2 separate regions of the Homo sapiens genome follow, and region 1 is linked to region 2. The links come from fine-mapping of genetic effects on gene expression. A gene starts in region 2. The other region holds a variant in brackets. All regions are shown on one strand. Distances are between the middles of the regions.

Region 1 (8,345 bases), 23 kb after region 2:
AATGATTATGCATACACCAGAAACTCTCATATATATCTTCTCTTTAACAGCTTGAAAGTACAGGTGAAAATGTCAAACCTCACCATCAATTGAAAAACACAGTGACTGTGGATAATACTGTGGGCAACGACACTATGTTTCTAGTTACGTGGCAGGCCAGTGGTCCTCCTGAGATTATATTATTTGATCCTGATGGACGAAAATACTACACAAATAATTTTATCACCAATCTAACTTTTCGGACAGCTAGTCTTTGGATTCCAGGAACAGCTAAGGTAGGTGTTGTGAGTTTGTTCCTAAGGACAACGTTCAACCAAGTTTATGATTTTCAGCTGAATCACATGATTAAATGCATTGTGTAAAGAAAATCTTGTTTTAATATATCAAAAGTTTACTTTAAATTTATGAGGCCATTTTGTGAATATTAAAAATTTAAGAGGAATAACTAAGGTATATTCCCAGTTTTATATATTAGACACCAAATACTTCAACACTGAAAATTAGTATTTCCACTAGTATTACAATTAATGTTTTTCTAGCCTACATATTTCTTTACATAATCCATACAAACACACTTTTCTATATGCTTAGAAAAAAATCTCTACTTAGAATTTATAATATGAATACATGCAATGCATGTGGTTTTTAGCATCTACTGGGTGTGCTGGGTTTTGTTCCAGGTACTTTACAATAAAATGCCATGGTAAGAGCATGAACAGGGTACTATCAGAACATACAAGAGGGTGGAAGGAAGAATGCTTCCTGGAAGCAAAGACATCAAAATGGAAATATAAGGAATAACAGGCCAGAGGTGGGTATGATATTGTGGGCAGAGGAAACAGCATATAGAAAGACTCAGATAAAAAGAACATGGCTGTTCATAGAACTAGAGTAGTTCAATAGAGTAGGGTAATCTATAAGTTAGGGATGTAGGCAAAGGAAGGAGAGGGGAGTAGTGAGGCTAGACAGGTAAACAGGAGCTGTATTAGCAAGGGCTTTGCACAACAGTAAAGTGAACAGGGGCTTGAATCCTGAAAGTGAAAGGGAACCACTGATGGTTCTAAGGAGAACTGTAAGTTGATCAGATTCACTCTTGCACTGCCTGAATTCAGTGCCTCCTCACATGCTGCCCCACCCCCACTTTTGTTGTTGTTGTTGTTGTTGTTGTTGTTGTTGTTGAGATGGAGTCTCGCTCTGTCACCCAGGCGGGAGTGCAGTGGCACCATCTCAGCTCACTGCAACCTTCACCTCCCAGGTTCAAGCGATTCTCCTGCCTCAGCCTCCCGAGTAGCTGGGACTACAGGCACTTGCCACCATGCCTGGCTAATTTTTGTATTTTTTGGTAGAGATGAGGTTTCACCATGTTGGCCAGGCTGTTCTCAAACTCCTGACCTCAAGTGATCTGCCTGCCTCTGCCTCCTGAAGTGCTGGGATTGCAGGCATGAGCCACCGCTCCCACCACCTTCTTGACAGCCCCTTAACTAGCCTTCTTGACTCTGAACTGCCATCCCTCCAGTCCATTCTTTACCTCTATAAAAGCGATCCTTCTGAAGCACAAATCAGTCTGTCTTTTGTTCAAAACCTCCTTGGTGGTTTCAGAATAAAATCCAAGTGTTAACCTTTTTTTTTTTTTTTTTTTTTTTTTAGCTTAGAAGATTCGCATTTATTCCAGATGGGAGGCTGAATCTCTCAGTTGTAGATTTTGACACATTGGCACTATTTTTGTTTCTGATTTATTGCCTTGGCCATAAGGTCAAAGGCAACAATAAAGTGTACTTTCATTAATATCACCATGGACTTTCGAGTATTAATATGACAAGAAAAGACAACTATTCATTTTTTTTAAGGGGATTGGACACACAAACTTCAGGAGGGAAGAATCCCCTCTCCCATGGTAGAATCCTCTATCTTGATAAAATGGTTGCTTTATTGGTCAGATTTTGGACTTGGATCGTCTTTGTTATAATATTAATAGTACAGAGCATGTAAGATTTTCTGCATTCATTTGAAATTCCTAATACCAACCATCTTTTAATTTATAAAAAAATGAGGGAAACTTATAATAAAACAAAAAATACTACCCTCACAGACGATTAATAGCATGCAATCTATGAAATATTACACACATTAAAAGTCTCCAATTACTGTGTGCCTGGCTCATCACACAGTATCCTTCCAAGACGATCTATAGAATTCAAAACTGTACAAAAATTTTAAAATATGCAGAAAACCCAAAAGGTATTTTGTAAAACAAAGATCACACACACATTAGTACTAAATAGGGAAAAAAAATCAGCAGACCCATGGACTCCCCCTGCTCCCAACTGCAGGTCTTCAGTATAGAGGATTTCACCAGTGTCTTCTGCACTCCCCCAATCCAGTAGGGGTCCAACAGACCAGCTGCATTCCTCCTGACTGCCACCAACTCTGTTTTCTGCATAGTTGTCTTCTCTGCTTCTGTAGTGGTGAGCTGTGGGAACTTTTTTTTTTTTTTTTTTTTTTTGATGGAGTCTCGCTCTGTCACCAGGCCCAAGTGGTAAATCTTACATACCAGACCCTTCATGTTTTGGCTTCTACCCAAGCTTCTCTCTTAACTTCTTCGATGCTCTGCTCCTATTGAACTTTTCTCCAAATTCATCATGTTCTTTTCACACCTGTGTATAAGGGCCAGGGACACTTTACCTACTTCTTGCTCCCCTTGCCTGACCTCTTGGTCTGGATTAGATGCCCTGTATCAAAACATTTATTACACTCAGAGAACTTTTTGATGTGGAAGTTCCTGCCATGCATCTGTCACTAATGTTATGATTCAAAAAACAAAAACAAAAAAACATAGTCCTTGAATCATAACTTAATGGAAAATAGTGAAGCTCATGAATCCCAATGAAGAAAGATGGCTAGGGTGTGGTGCATCTGAACTCTCCACCCTGAGTTACGCTTCAACCCCTTGCTTTTCTGTTCTTCCTTCTGCTTTGTTGTGTTTCACTTGTTACTTCTGGGGGTTTGATAAGGAGCAGCAGCAGAAGTCAGGGAAAAGCAATATATGTATAGCTTAATCAAAAGGACGAATTTCTGCTATATTGTAATTTTAGTCTTTTTCTTTCAGATTTTCTTTTGTAGGTTTTTCCCAGGCAGATAGGCAAGAGTAGTGTTTAGCAGTATTTCTATAAATTACCCAAATTAGATATTGTATAATCCTGACCTATTAAAAATAGTAGGTCCTTTTCTTGGTCCCTAGTAGTGTATGTGTTTTTTGTTGATTGAGATTTCTGAGTGTGGAGTTTTTGGGAAGTGGAGTGAAAGAAGGATGTTGTTGCCTTTTTAGTCCACGGTGTCCACATAAATTATAATGGTCCAATTAATTTGATGTAATTTTCTCAGTTATGAAAAGAAATGAAAAACATTTAAACGCCTTTTTGGGGAAGGGGCTCAGATTAATATCTGTAAAGTACTTTGAAGCTGGACACTATTATTGTTATGTTCTAAAAATGGGAATCAAGATGTATCCTCCCTCACTCCAAATAAATTCGAGGTGTAATTCCCTAAAGAATTATCTAGAAATAAAGGTGACTTATGCTATGAAAGCCATGTAAATACAAATTTATTCATCCCTTAACCAATGCTACTTTTCCTGGCATCTTTTTGTAGTATTTTAAAAAGTGCAACATCAACAAAACAAGAGCAAAATTCTCCAGAAGTTTTGATGTATGCTTTAAAATTAGGGTTGATTTTTTTTTCACACTTTCCAAAACAATAAGACTTGTTTTACAGCCTGGGCACTGGACTTACACCCTGAACAATACCCATCATTCTCTGCAAGCCCTGAAAGTGACAGTGACCTCTCG[C/T]GCCTCCAACTCAGCTGTGCCCCCAGCCACTGTGGAAGCCTTTGTGGAAAGAGACAGCCTCCATTTTCCTCATCCTGTGATGATTTATGCCAATGTGAAACAGGGATTTTATCCCATTCTTAATGCCACTGTCACTGCCACAGTTGAGCCAGAGACTGGAGATCCTGTTACGCTGAGACTCCTTGATGATGGAGCAGGTAACAAGGAATGTCATGACATTTTATCATCTTCTCAACAGCTGTTGTGATATGATGCGGTAGTATCAATATTAAGCTTATCTGTAAGATTCCTTGAGTTCAATTTTTTTTTAATCTTACAATATTCTCAAATTCTTATAGAGTCACTGATATACTGAATAGCTACAGGTTAACATGGAAAAAGAGAGTCCTTGTGAGACTCCTCATAGTGTCTATGTTTGAGCAAAGGGTGGGAGGCAGCCGCTGGACACCTTGGTCCTGGCTTCCACTTGCTGAGGTCATACAGGAGCAGGCTTCTATGTCCTTATGACATACTTATATTCCTCTAAGAGTCACTAGCTTTATTATTCACTGAAGTAATCAGATTGGACTGTTAAAATAGCAAATGAAAATCAGAAGGGAGGTGCAGTGACAGCGAACCCACTTTTTCCCTTTGGACCCCAGTTATGAAGAAAAAATTGGAAACTGAACTTGTGACCTATAAGATGACCCTAGACCCAAGAGGCTGGGTTGAAGAGAGGGCACAGCTCAGTTCTAGCACAGCCAATGCCTTTTACGTGTGTAATTTGGTCCCAAGAAGACCCAGCCTGCAAGCCTAGTGGAATCAGAATAGAGAAAAGTTCTCATTCTGCACATACAGCATTCAGAGCCTCGTCATCATACATTATAGATGGTATAGCATCCAGCCAGGTAAACAGCAGCACTTGGGATCCTTTGAAAAACAAATTCCTTTGTTGTTCCATCTTTCCTATTTGGTTATTTTCCTAAATTACATTCTTAGAATGGCAGTAGACCTGCCTCTTGGCAGCCCGAAGTGTTTGATCTGCTAACAAAATTATATTCTTTTGCCCTGTTGTTTCAAAGTTAATCTTTTTTCAAGAGTCTTAAGTTTGGTAGCCCATCAGTATCTTGCCATGGCAATCATGTATGATGTGCAGGAAAACAAAAGTTCATTCAAAGGGTTTTGGTTCAAGTCCACCACTGGGGGATACCAGAGAAGTCTTCTTGTTTTGCCTGTTGGATTGGATCCAAATGAACTTCTCATGCTCTGATGGCTTATCCATGGTTGCACCTTTCATTTTTTGTTTATGGTCCAAAAATGTACTTTTGCAGAATGTTTCTCTCTTGCCCCACCCTGTGGGCCAGCCTGGAGAACAGAGCCTACTCCCCTAGGGAATATCGTCTGATTCAGCTCAATTGGCTTTTATATTATTCCTTGGAACTATTTTATTTGTTTGATATCTAAATGTATGCACTAAAAAAAGGAACAATAAAAAATACTGCTCAGGCATCAAAATGTAAATTGTTTCCCCTCCAATCAATACTTAACACGCATGTACATAGTTGTTTAATACTTTTATAATGGAAGCAGTATTTATTTGCTCAGTAAATGAACTGTAATAAAACTTATACCTCTGAAATGATTTACAATTTAAAATGTACTTTTTCATGCATACTCTCAAATAATCATCACAACAACCCTGCAAGATAAGTTATCTCCATTTTATAGATGAGAAAACTGAGGCTCAGAGACATGAAGCCTCATAGCTACTAAGTGACAGATGCAGGCCTTCAAATTAATTCCTCTGTCTCCCAAGCCAATGTTCTTTCCCCATTTCTTTCTGCCTCAGTTATTAAAAGAGGTGGCAGTGGTGACTTTAATATGGAGAGATTTTCCTTTGTAATTTCTCAACAAAGATAAACCTTATTAATCATTAAATCACTAAATACCAAGATTTGATTTCTTACAACAGACAAAAAAGAGTTCTAAATCTATCTTGATAATAAAATGTTTAGCACTTTTTATTTCATTTAAATATACTCCTGCTTTTCTTATGTTAAGGAGCCCTGCCTTTGCAGTGGGGAAGAGGGAGATTCTGGGGACACTTTAGCAATGATACACTGCTGGTATGCAGGGCTGTGTGTGTGGTATGAAAACTGAATTGACCTCTAGGATAGAGGACAAGCTGCTTGCCCACTATGGCCACCTGTACTTGAATGGCAAAAGTGATCTATACTTGGGCTAAGCTGGACTTCCCTCTGCTGCCCTGGGGTCTAGGCCTTCCTGCCATTGAGTCATGATTTTGGCTTGGAATTGAACTGCTCTCTGAAGATCAATTTAAAAAGAAGGAAGTACATCACTGGCTAACCTTTCAGAATGCCCCCTGAAGCAAGGCACAGTAGATGCTACCAAATTCTGTCAAACTCCAGGTCATCAAGTCCCCTAGAATCTAGAAAAACAGTTCCAGATACCCTCTAATGAGGAAATTAAGTAATTTCACACTATTTTATAAACTAACCAAAGTTTTTATTTATTAAAGGTCCTTAATCAAGTGACTTCAAGGCATTCATAAACCCTTGAAACTGTATGAAAATGTGTATATGTGCATATATATTTATTTCCTAGGGACAAAATAGCTTTTATTCATATCTCAAAAGGGTCAATGACTATAAGCAACCTGAAGAATGTGCTTGATTTCTAGAAAAAACTAGTATTATTTTCAATGATAAGTACAAGAATGTTAAAGGTGATGATTAAATGTTTTATTAGCATGGTACAACTTATTCACCTTTAGAAAATCATTTTACTGAGGTAAGAAATTACAGGGAGAAATTATGGACCCATTGGATTTTTTATCACCTGAGAATGTAAAAAGTAGATAAGAGCATGATAATATATCTTATATAGAAAGAATAAGGGGAGTAAATCTCATTTTTAATGACTTAAATATTAGTAATCTACTATAATAACAAGTGTTGACACTGTGTTTTTTATATATACAGGTGCTGATGTTATAAAAAATGATGGAATTTACTCGAGGTATTTTTTCTCCTTTGCTGCAAATGGTAGATATAGCTTGAAAGTGCATGTCAATCACTCTCCCAGCATAAGCACCCCAGCCCACTCTATTCCAGGGAGTCATGCTATGTATGTACCAGGTTACACAGCAAACGGTAAGAACCATTAGCACTGTTATTTGAGTAACATCATTTCATGTACATATCTCTGATGGGTATGTGTGTACTGGGGTGGCAGGGAGTGAGAGAAAGAGAGAATTTCAAAACTCTTTACGCTTAAGTCCATACATAATTTGTTGACTGTTTCTTCAATCCTCAGTGATTCATGGTAGGGGGGTAACAGGAAGGCGATAGGTAATGCCCACAGATTATACCTAACTTCATTTTAGTCATTATGTTGACCTCTTTCTTGTTTCATCAGAATTACTAATAGATAAAGAGATTTACTGGGTTTTCTCAGTTCCTGCTTCCGTGTTTCCTCTATAGAGGTTTAGGCAAGAGAAAGAGGCAAAAAGTTATTAGCAGTTGAAAGAAGGAGGCCAACAGCCCAAACAGTCCACACAGGAAATGAGTTCCTAAATAAATATGAGCTTGGGTGTTACAGGCAACTAAGTGATTCCTGAAGATGTTTTGCTTTTCTTCAAGAAAAAAGTTCAAAATAAATGGAAGATAGTTATCTTTTTAACACCATTATAATAGTTCCTGATAGGAAGCGGTGGTTAAAGCATAATAGACCAACAGAAATATATCATGCTACAGTCTTTGAAAACAATCTCAAAAAAGACTTCTAAGCATTTTTATTTCCAAAAATGCAGATTCTTTATAAATATTATTCATGTATTTTAGAAGTTATAACTAATCATTTGGACTATTCCACACCATGATTCTATACTTTTTGTTTACTTTTCAGTCCTCATTCTTCCTGACCTCACCAGTATCAAACACAGCCAAGATCCCTCCTTTGCCATTTCCTGGTTTCTATGATACCTCACTCTCCTGATTACCTCCTATTTTCTGGAATTTTTTATCAGGCTCTTTTTCCAGCTCCTCCTTTTCTACCAGGCCTCTAAATGTTGTCTGAGTCTGAACCTTCTTACTTTACCATCTGGAGCCACATTGCCTGGTTTTGAAACCCAGCTCCTCCATTTACTAGCTGTGTGACTTTGGGCAAGTGACTTAGCTTCTGTGTGTCTCAGTTTCATCATCTAAAAAAATAAGGGTAATAATTGTACCCTCTTCGTAGCCTTGTTGGGAAAATTAAATATCTGATACATGTAAGGCCTTAGAAAAGTGCCTGGCACATAGAAGGTGCTCAAAAAGTGCTACTTATCATTATAGTAATAATTATTATTAGTTAATCTCATTAATCCATATGCCTTTAATAACATCTATCTGTGTATAACCTCCAAATTCATAACTTTAAAATTATTAAATTTAGCTAAAATCTCTTCTTTAAGCTTAAAATCCAGATCTAAATGGCTCATTAACATCTTGAATTAGATGT
Region 2 (8,345 bases):
AACTAACGTGGCCCATGAGCTGTGTAGCCCAACCGTACAGTGTACTACACTTTCCTCTTCTAAATGGGATTGTTGAAACCAAAGCCTGAGAGGAACTAATCCAAAATTTTCTTTGATTTCCCCAAAATGTCAAATCTCCTGACTTCTCTGACACCAATTGGATGTTTTATTCACTTAGACTGTGGGTCTATACCAGCTGACTCCATGAAAAAAATAGACAGGCCCTTCTGGGGCCAGGTTGAACTACAGAGTCAGACAATGAACAAAGATGTGCTTTAGATTCTTCAGTTACTGAAATTGAATAACTCTTATTTTCTTGAAAGCAGAATAAAAGCAAAGCAGATTCCTAGAGTTTATATAACATTGAAATAAACACTTAAAAACTGTATTCCTCCTTTCTTTTCCTTTAGGTATATTTCCTTTCTCAGATATTATAAAATCTAAAATCTATGGCTATGACCAGTTAATTTTTGTTTAATGAAAGGATAAAAAGTTCACTTTATTGACGAAGTCACACTTCACAAAAAGATGCTGTGCTCAGTATAATTTCTAATTCCTTTACTCAATTTCATTTTCTCCACCTTTTCAGGCTGTAAGGTCAGCCTGATGAAAGAAGAAGGCAGTAAAAAGAGACCTTCAGCTGGCCCGGTCCCAGGCCTGGTTGCTGATAACAAAAAGGGCTCTGAATTAGACGTTTAAAAAAAATCAGATAGATAAGAGTAGATATCATGCCTAGACTCTCAACCCGGGCTAAGCAAAGCCTGAGTGAGCTTGTTCAGGTTTCAACCCAAGTGAAGCTGGACAAAATTGTTCATTTGTAGCTGTTCTTTATAAAGTTGCATGCACTCTCTAGCCAATATTTTCCACCCTCACATCCCAAGGGAACCATAGTAATGATAAAAACAAGTGGAGAGAGTGCTGAATATCAGTCCTCAATCACTCCCTCCCATAGCAAACAACCTATACAAGTGTCATGAAAAACTTCCCTGAGTGTTGGCAAAAAGCCGCTCTTGCAGTGTGCTTACGAGTTTAGTTTTTGAGCATATTGGTTTATCGATGGGAATATTTGTATTCTTAAAATCACAAGAGGTTGGCATAAGAAAATAAACTGCCAGGGATATTTGAAATGAAGTGCATTGTTCTGCTCAATGAGTCACATTTACAGACAGAGCCTTTGGAGCTGCCACACCTCTGGCCTTCTACTCTGAAGACACAGTGAACAAGCAGAAAAAAACTAGGGCTGGGAATTCAGTTTGGGAGAAAAGGCAGCTAAGCTGACCTTTGAACTTTAGGGTAAGACCCTTGGGCAGCCACGTAATGACCAGCGCCATCCCATTCTTCAAGGAGAGCACCATACTCAAGCACTGCCTGTCAAGAGGGAGCAAGAGGGAAACTGCTCTAGAACAGAGGAGATGCCTTCTAGAAAACAAGGGTGGGGGAAAGAATTTTTACACTATAACCCGGGGCTCCTTCACTATCTTGTTTTATTTACTTCTCCTGACTCCATTCATTCAGTCATTCAACAGAGAGTTTACTGAGATAGGTGCTGGGGAAGTACTGAATGAAAACAGACTCCATCCCTTCCTTCATACAGCAGGAAGCTGACAATCAATTATACAATATAAATTTGACATTGTTACCATGATCATACTGCAAAGGTGAGTTATCTGATGCTATGGAAGCATGAAAGAAGGGAATTTGACTTAGTTATGGAGCTCAGGCCAGGCTTCCAGGACACAGCTGGAATTTGAAGGAAAAGCAGGTGAGAAGAAGCATGAGAAAATGATTCAAGCAAGACAGCAAGGGGAAAAAAATTCCCTCAACATCTGTCAACATTGCAGTGCAATATCAAAGCCCAAGTTCAGAAGACTCCAACCTTGCTGGGAAGAAGAGTGACATCACACTGCCCATGAAGATGTTGAAAACAGACAATGTTGGTGAAATCCCTGTTGAGAGCAGGGACAGACCGTTTCCTAAATGCTACACTCCCCTCCCCAGAAATGTTCCGAGACGGGGCCACAGCAGGGAAGAGTCACAGGTTTTGCTTGCTGTGGACCTCTGACGCTGTGAATAAAACTTTTTCTTTAGTTTTACAATAGATGTCACTGTGCGGCATTCTTAAACACAAAGAAGAGGGAGAAACGAGGTTACTAAGATAATTTAGTAACTAAGAGAGAACATGATATATTGAAAAACAGTGGAATTTGGAGTCAGTTGGTTCATTCTAGTACGATGATAATACTCCCAACCTTGAACAAGTTACTTAGATTTTTTTGAACATTAGTTCTGTCACCCATAAAATAGGCATAATAAAATCCATCACTCAAAAAATGTTAGTTTCTTCTCTCATTGGCTAATTTTCATAATCAGAATTTCCAAGACTCATTATTTTCATTTGAAAAGTACAAATTATACCTGCATCAGAGTATTGATATTTAAATGAGTTCATTTGTAAACTTTAAAGCATGAGGTAAATATCAGGTATTATGAATCAGTCATAAAATATTTGCGATGGTTACTATATATTAGATCCTGTTTTTGGTCCTGGAGAAATGGAGGGTTGACTGAAGCAGGGCCTTGCCCTTAGGAGAGAGCTGAAGGAGAAATCTATTCTTCTTCCTGAGGCAGAGAGAAAAGGTAGCAAGGCCAGAGGGAAAGGGCTGCACAGGCACCCAAGTTCCTGGCAGTTGGCCCTCTCTGGGGGATATCTGATATCTGACCTCCAGCCATCAGCTGAGAGCTTGCCCAGACTATCTGACCCAAGGGCTGTAGGGACTGGGCTGCAGAATGGATTTCTAAATCTTCAAAATAAACAGGCAAGGAAATCTTGCAACAAATGAAAAATGACTTGAGGGCAGTAGAAAGTACTTGTGCCAACTGATGGAGGAGGTTATGAAAAATGAGGAGAGGAAAATCACTATAGACTTCTGTGTTTCTACTGCAAGTGGATTGAACAGTCCAGATATACTGATTTCCAGCCCATATTTCCTGCTTTTAAGCTCCTTTGGTCTTATTTCCCTCTTCTTTCTGAAAAGTTATAAAATGAATGAAGGGCAGAATGTTTCTTGCCCAACCATGATTCAGGAGGCAGCTCAGCCACAGAACAGGCAAGTGTAGCATTGCCTGGAGGAAAAGGACTTGTAGAGGCAGGTCCCAGATGGATCCACCCCAGACTTTTCAAAGAAGACACCTCCTTCATCTTGTGTTCTAAAACCTTGCAAGTTCAGGAAGAAACCATCTGCATCCATATTGAAAACCTGACACAATGTATGCAGCAGGCTCAGTGTGAGTGAACTGGAGGCTTCTCTACAACATGACCCAAAGGAGCATTGCAGGTCCTATTTGCAACCTGAAGTTTGTGACTCTCCTGGTTGCCTTAAGTTCAGAACTCCCATTCCTGGGAGCTGGAGTACAGCTTCAAGACAATGGGTATAATGGATTGCTCATTGCAATTAATCCTCAGGTACCTGAGAATCAGAACCTCATCTCAAACATTAAGGTGAGTGGAAATTATGAAATTGATACTAGCATCCCATTTGATCAGACCTGTAGCCTTATTTAGAAGCTAACTACCCTGCCTGGTTTGTATTTGAGTAATACAGAGAACAGCATTTTTAAAAGATAGCGCCACAACGTTATGATTATGGCTAACTAAGCCAGTTTGTTCATCTAATTCTGTGTAGTCTCAGCTCACAGAGTGTTGATCTAGCCCTCTATTTTGTTATTGTTGGTTGCTACTAATTTCAGCTCTTTTGTTTTCCTACATGACTGTTTTTGGGGTAGCAACTTAGAAAAATAACAACCCATTGTGGCAACAAAGATTGAATATTTAACTGATGAATAAGCATGATAATGAGCATGCTTGTTAAAATCATATTGCTAGATTCCATCCTGAGGGTGAGAATTCTCAGGCAGAAAGGGTGAGAGTCTGCACGGTGGGCCAAAAAGCAAAATTATTTCTTTTCACTTGAATGTGCTGTAACATAATTGACTATTTTTACTTTAATATGGCAAGGGAGGATCATAGCTCTATGATGTAAGAGCCTCCATTTAGTATTGCTTTAGTGAAATCAGTAGCATCATAAGGTGTGGTCTTGAATGTGCCCACAGGTGTGACATGAAAAGGATTTGTTCCACAAAAGCTTAAAAGCCTTTCTCAAAATTGGGAAAACTATGAAGGCAAGCACAGACATATAATTAGTGTCCTAAAATCTTCCATATAATCATTTAAAGTTTTTTTAAAAATTTGCTCCTATGTTTTCCCAAAGTCTAGGGCTTTCTCTAAAAGAAATGGGTCTCTTCAAAATATTTCATTGTCTTTTATTACTGTTTAAGCATACCAGAAAACCAAAACATACAGGATTTACAAGTGGTAAAGTAAGTTTTTCTTTTGTCTGGCTGTAGGAAATGATAACTGAAGCTTCATTTTACCTATTTAATGCTACCAAGAGAAGAGTATTTTTCAGAAATATAAAGATTTTAATACCTGCCACATGGAAAGCTAATAATAACAGCAAAATAAAACAAGAATCATATGAAAAGGTAAGAATCCAGGATTTCATTCAATGATCTCAAGGGGAAAAAAAACACCAAAATATACTGTGCTCAAACGATAAAAGTGAGAAGTTAAGTAAAAACAAATCATCAGTATTAACAATGCAAATAATATTAATGGGCAGAATGTTATCAACAAAATATATGAGAATAAATGAATGCAAATTGTGCAGTAAAAAATGAGTCAAATGCCATAGCCTAAGTAGTTTCTCAGAAGATCTCTTTATTTTGTAACTTATGGAGTACTTTCTGAAAAGTTTGGTTGAGGATCAAGAACTAGTTTTATCCTACTGAGGATGAGCTGCAAAGGGAACAGTTCCAATTATGACTATACCCATTTACCATCCTGTCAGGAGCAATAAACATGCATGTCCAGACAGAAATATAAACCACCATGCATATAAAAATATGACTGCCATCTTATGCCATGGTGTAGATTATCAGAATTTCACATTAGCTCAAGTCCAGAATATTGTTTTAGGGGAATAAGGAGATTAGAAGGAAGGGAGGAAGGATGTGGGGATGTGGATGAGTAGGGGAATGGCTACCTTTTTTTTTCCACCTATAGAGGAACTTCACCTTGAAAGGCTCTCATAAGTTGCAGATCATGATTAAGCACCCATGATGATGTCTGGTACATACTAGTGTGCACACTATAAATAAATGATAAATAATATAAATGGTAAATCACTGTTTGAAGTCAACTGTGAACAAGAGTCCATTGCAGCTACCAGAAGGGCCAGAAGTAGAGGCATTGGCAACTTATCTCAGGGTTTCAGCAATGGAGTGGGTTTGAGATTGTAACTACATCTCTAACAGAATGACTCAAACATGTGGTACAGCTTTCCCCTTTCCTTATTTCTGACCCTCAGTATGAAATTTCCTAAGTCTGTTTCATTCTTAGCTCTCCTTCAAAGCTACTCTGTCAGAAATTGAATGGTATAGCAATCCAGATAGGTACCCCAATGTCCTGAAGAAGTTAAAGAGCCTGTGAAAAGCATTTGACCTATGACCAGATGAAAGCATTTGAGAATGCTTGCACATGAAGATAGGATAGGTGGGGGAACTGGGGTAAGCTGGGAAGAGTTAGTGTTTAAGCTCCAACTAAGTGCCAGGCATTTTACATATATTATTTAATTCTCACATAACTTAAAATTAGTTTCTGTGATCACAAATTAAAACACTGGGGCTTGAATAAGGTATGGACTTTGTCCCAAATCTAACAGCTAGTAAATTACAGAGCCATAATTTGAATGTCTATTTGCCTCCAAAACCCATGCTTTTTGCACTAAGCTTTGTTGTCTCTAGCTGTCAATAGAGATTTAATGCATCTATTGGGCCTTCAATAGAACTAAGAAGTATTGGAGACAACAAACACCAAAACCAGGTTGCCATAGGTAACACTTGATCCTAATGGAGGGGAGAGAAATAAGTAAAGCAAAAGTGAAAATATGAGTGAACGGAAAGACCAAAGGAAACAATCGTCCCTGGATGCTGTTCATTTATCTGTTGGATACCAATTCTTTAACCTCAGAATGTCAATTAAGCAAACAGTGAATGATCATTATGTACGGGACCACGCTAGGCACTTCAGAGAACCCAAGGACCAGCAAGGTAGTTCCTGTCCTTCCAAGTCTACAATGAGATGTAGGTAGGAATCATGGAAGGGGGAAAGGGTTAGGAAAAGTAGATAAGAGCTGAATTACTGTGGTCTATAAGGTATAAAGTAACCCCAAACAGCCTCTGAGTATTCCATTCCATGAAGGGCACTCTTTCCTTTTGGCCTCAGGACAAATTTTCAGACATAGGAATGAGGTTTTACCCAAGTGAGGACTATCCAAGAGTGTGACCTCTTCAGCCTTTTTTGTAGGTACTTCCTTGTAATGACCTTGGCTTGAATTCTTATCTTTCTAAAAATAAATGTTAATTATTATAAAAGTAATTTATACTCATTGAAAAAAATTAAATAATGTAGAAACATGGAAAATAAAAATGAAAAATTGTATTGTCCTCTTCTTCTCAGTGGCACACACACAGACACAGATGGACACACATACATACACACACACACACACACACACACACAAAACACATATACATATTGTACATAGAGTGATAATTGTGTATATTGGATCGTATTAGATCTATTTTTCTAAAATCAGCTTTTAAAAAAACTTAACAGCATATTTAACTTTTAAGTGCATATCCAGAACAATCTGTCATCTTTCTTCCCAAAAATAAAAGAAACAATGTTATATATAACATTTTCTTGTCTTGATAGTTATATGAGTGGATATTTCAGTTTTGGACTTAAAATCTGTTTTAGCAACAGTAATGGAAATGGTCAGGCCATAAGATGAAATATAACTTCATTGGAATGATCGTTTTGCTGATCTAATTGGTTACAGGAAAGAAAGGACAAATTTTCAAAGAAATAATGTTCTATTGTCTTACACCAATAAAATAACCCACAGAAAGTTGTTCACAAAAGGCTGTAACATTTTACAGCCTTCTGAATGGTTCTGAACGATGTATAAATGCTTTTAGAATTTCTTCAAATATTTTAATTGCATTTTATAGTGTTTTGTTATATCAGACTTTTACAGGATTGACTTTTGAGAATATTTTAATCTGGAATGTGGAAAGATCAAATGGAAGTAATTAGGTTCCATAAAAATTTGCTAAGCTTTCATAACATAGACCTTTTTGGAAATCCCAAGTGATTTTATTGATATGTAGCTGTGGGTGCATTTTAAACTCCATCCACAAGGTGTTTTTCTTCAATTTTGTTTTTAAATTGGGTTATAATTACATACAATAAAATGCACACATCTTAAGTGTACAGTTCAAAGTGCTTTAATGAATGTATACATTTATGTCACCAACAACAGAGCTGAGAAAGTATTACAAGGCATTTCTTTTAATTTAGGCAAATGTCATAGTGACTGACTGGTATGGGGCACATGGAGATGATCCATACACCCTACAATACAGAGGGTGTGGAAAAGAGGGAAAATACATTCATTTCACACCTAATTTCCTACTGAATGATAACTTAACAGCTGGCTACGGATCACGAGGTAAGTGGGACCAATAAAACAATAGCCATTGGACAATACTACTTATAATATTCTGTGCTTGGTGCTGAAAGGGACTCACTCACAAAACCTGAAACTTGTCAAGGACTTACCACTCAAAGGGGGAGATAGGTCATATGCCCATGCAAAGATGAGGGGCTAAAGTGAACTCGAAAGAGTTTAGCACCAGATTAGTGGCCCAGAGAGGAGTGCTATAAGAATTCAATCAAGGAAACGTCATTTAGAGTCAAGGGTGGTCAGAAATGTCCTCACAAAGGAAAAGGTCTTCAAGATTGAACATCATTTTGATAAATGGAAAGAAGGGAGAAAATAGTGGGAAGACTATGAAGAAAACTGTGGCAGCAGAAAAATTAAAGGCATATAGGAGAGACAGAGACCCTGATGATGGTGCAGGGAGACTGTGGGCAGTGGGAGAAAACGTTGAAACATACATGAGGGCCAGGTGATGCACTAAAATGGCCACATTTTCAAGTCACCACTCAAGGTTTCTAAGCACAGGAGTGACTCCATCAAAGCAGTGTTTTAAGATTAATCTGGCTTCCTCTGATCAATGAAGGAGAAACTGGATATCAGGAGAATAACTGGGAGAAGTCGAGGTATGAGGCCACAAGACTTAAAAATGGGTGGAGACAGTGAGATGGGAAGGATAGTAATAAGGACACTGAGGATTTCCTATGCGCTAGCCGCTCTGTG

Alleles and levels. Alleles are on the strand shown, and positions count from the first base shown. SD is a standard deviation of normalised expression in the study named.
For the expression in spinal cord of the gene that starts at base 3,237 in region 2, T is the low allele of the variant in region 1 and C is the other (large effect, 0.83 SD a copy in GTEx).

The links.
Region 1: its variant is fine-mapped to the expression of CLCA2 in spinal cord (GTEx, PIP above 0.99).

The regions. Positions count from the first base shown.
Region 1 is chr1:86,443,737-86,452,081 of GRCh38, forward strand. CLCA2 (chloride channel accessory 2) reads left to right here. Exons shown (of 14, transcript NM_006536.7): 10 at 51-275; 11 at 3,772-4,042; 12 at 6,827-6,997. Among named protein-coding and RNA genes, the nearest start is that of CLCA1, 21 kb to the right of the region's middle. The variant C/T (reference allele first, on the strand shown) is at 3,846.
Region 2 is chr1:86,420,935-86,429,279 of GRCh38, forward strand. It overlaps CLCA2 (chloride channel accessory 2), which reads left to right and starts at 3,237. Exons shown (of 14, transcript NM_006536.7): 1 at 3,237-3,499; 2 at 4,405-4,542; 3 at 7,484-7,634. The coding sequence starts at 3,314.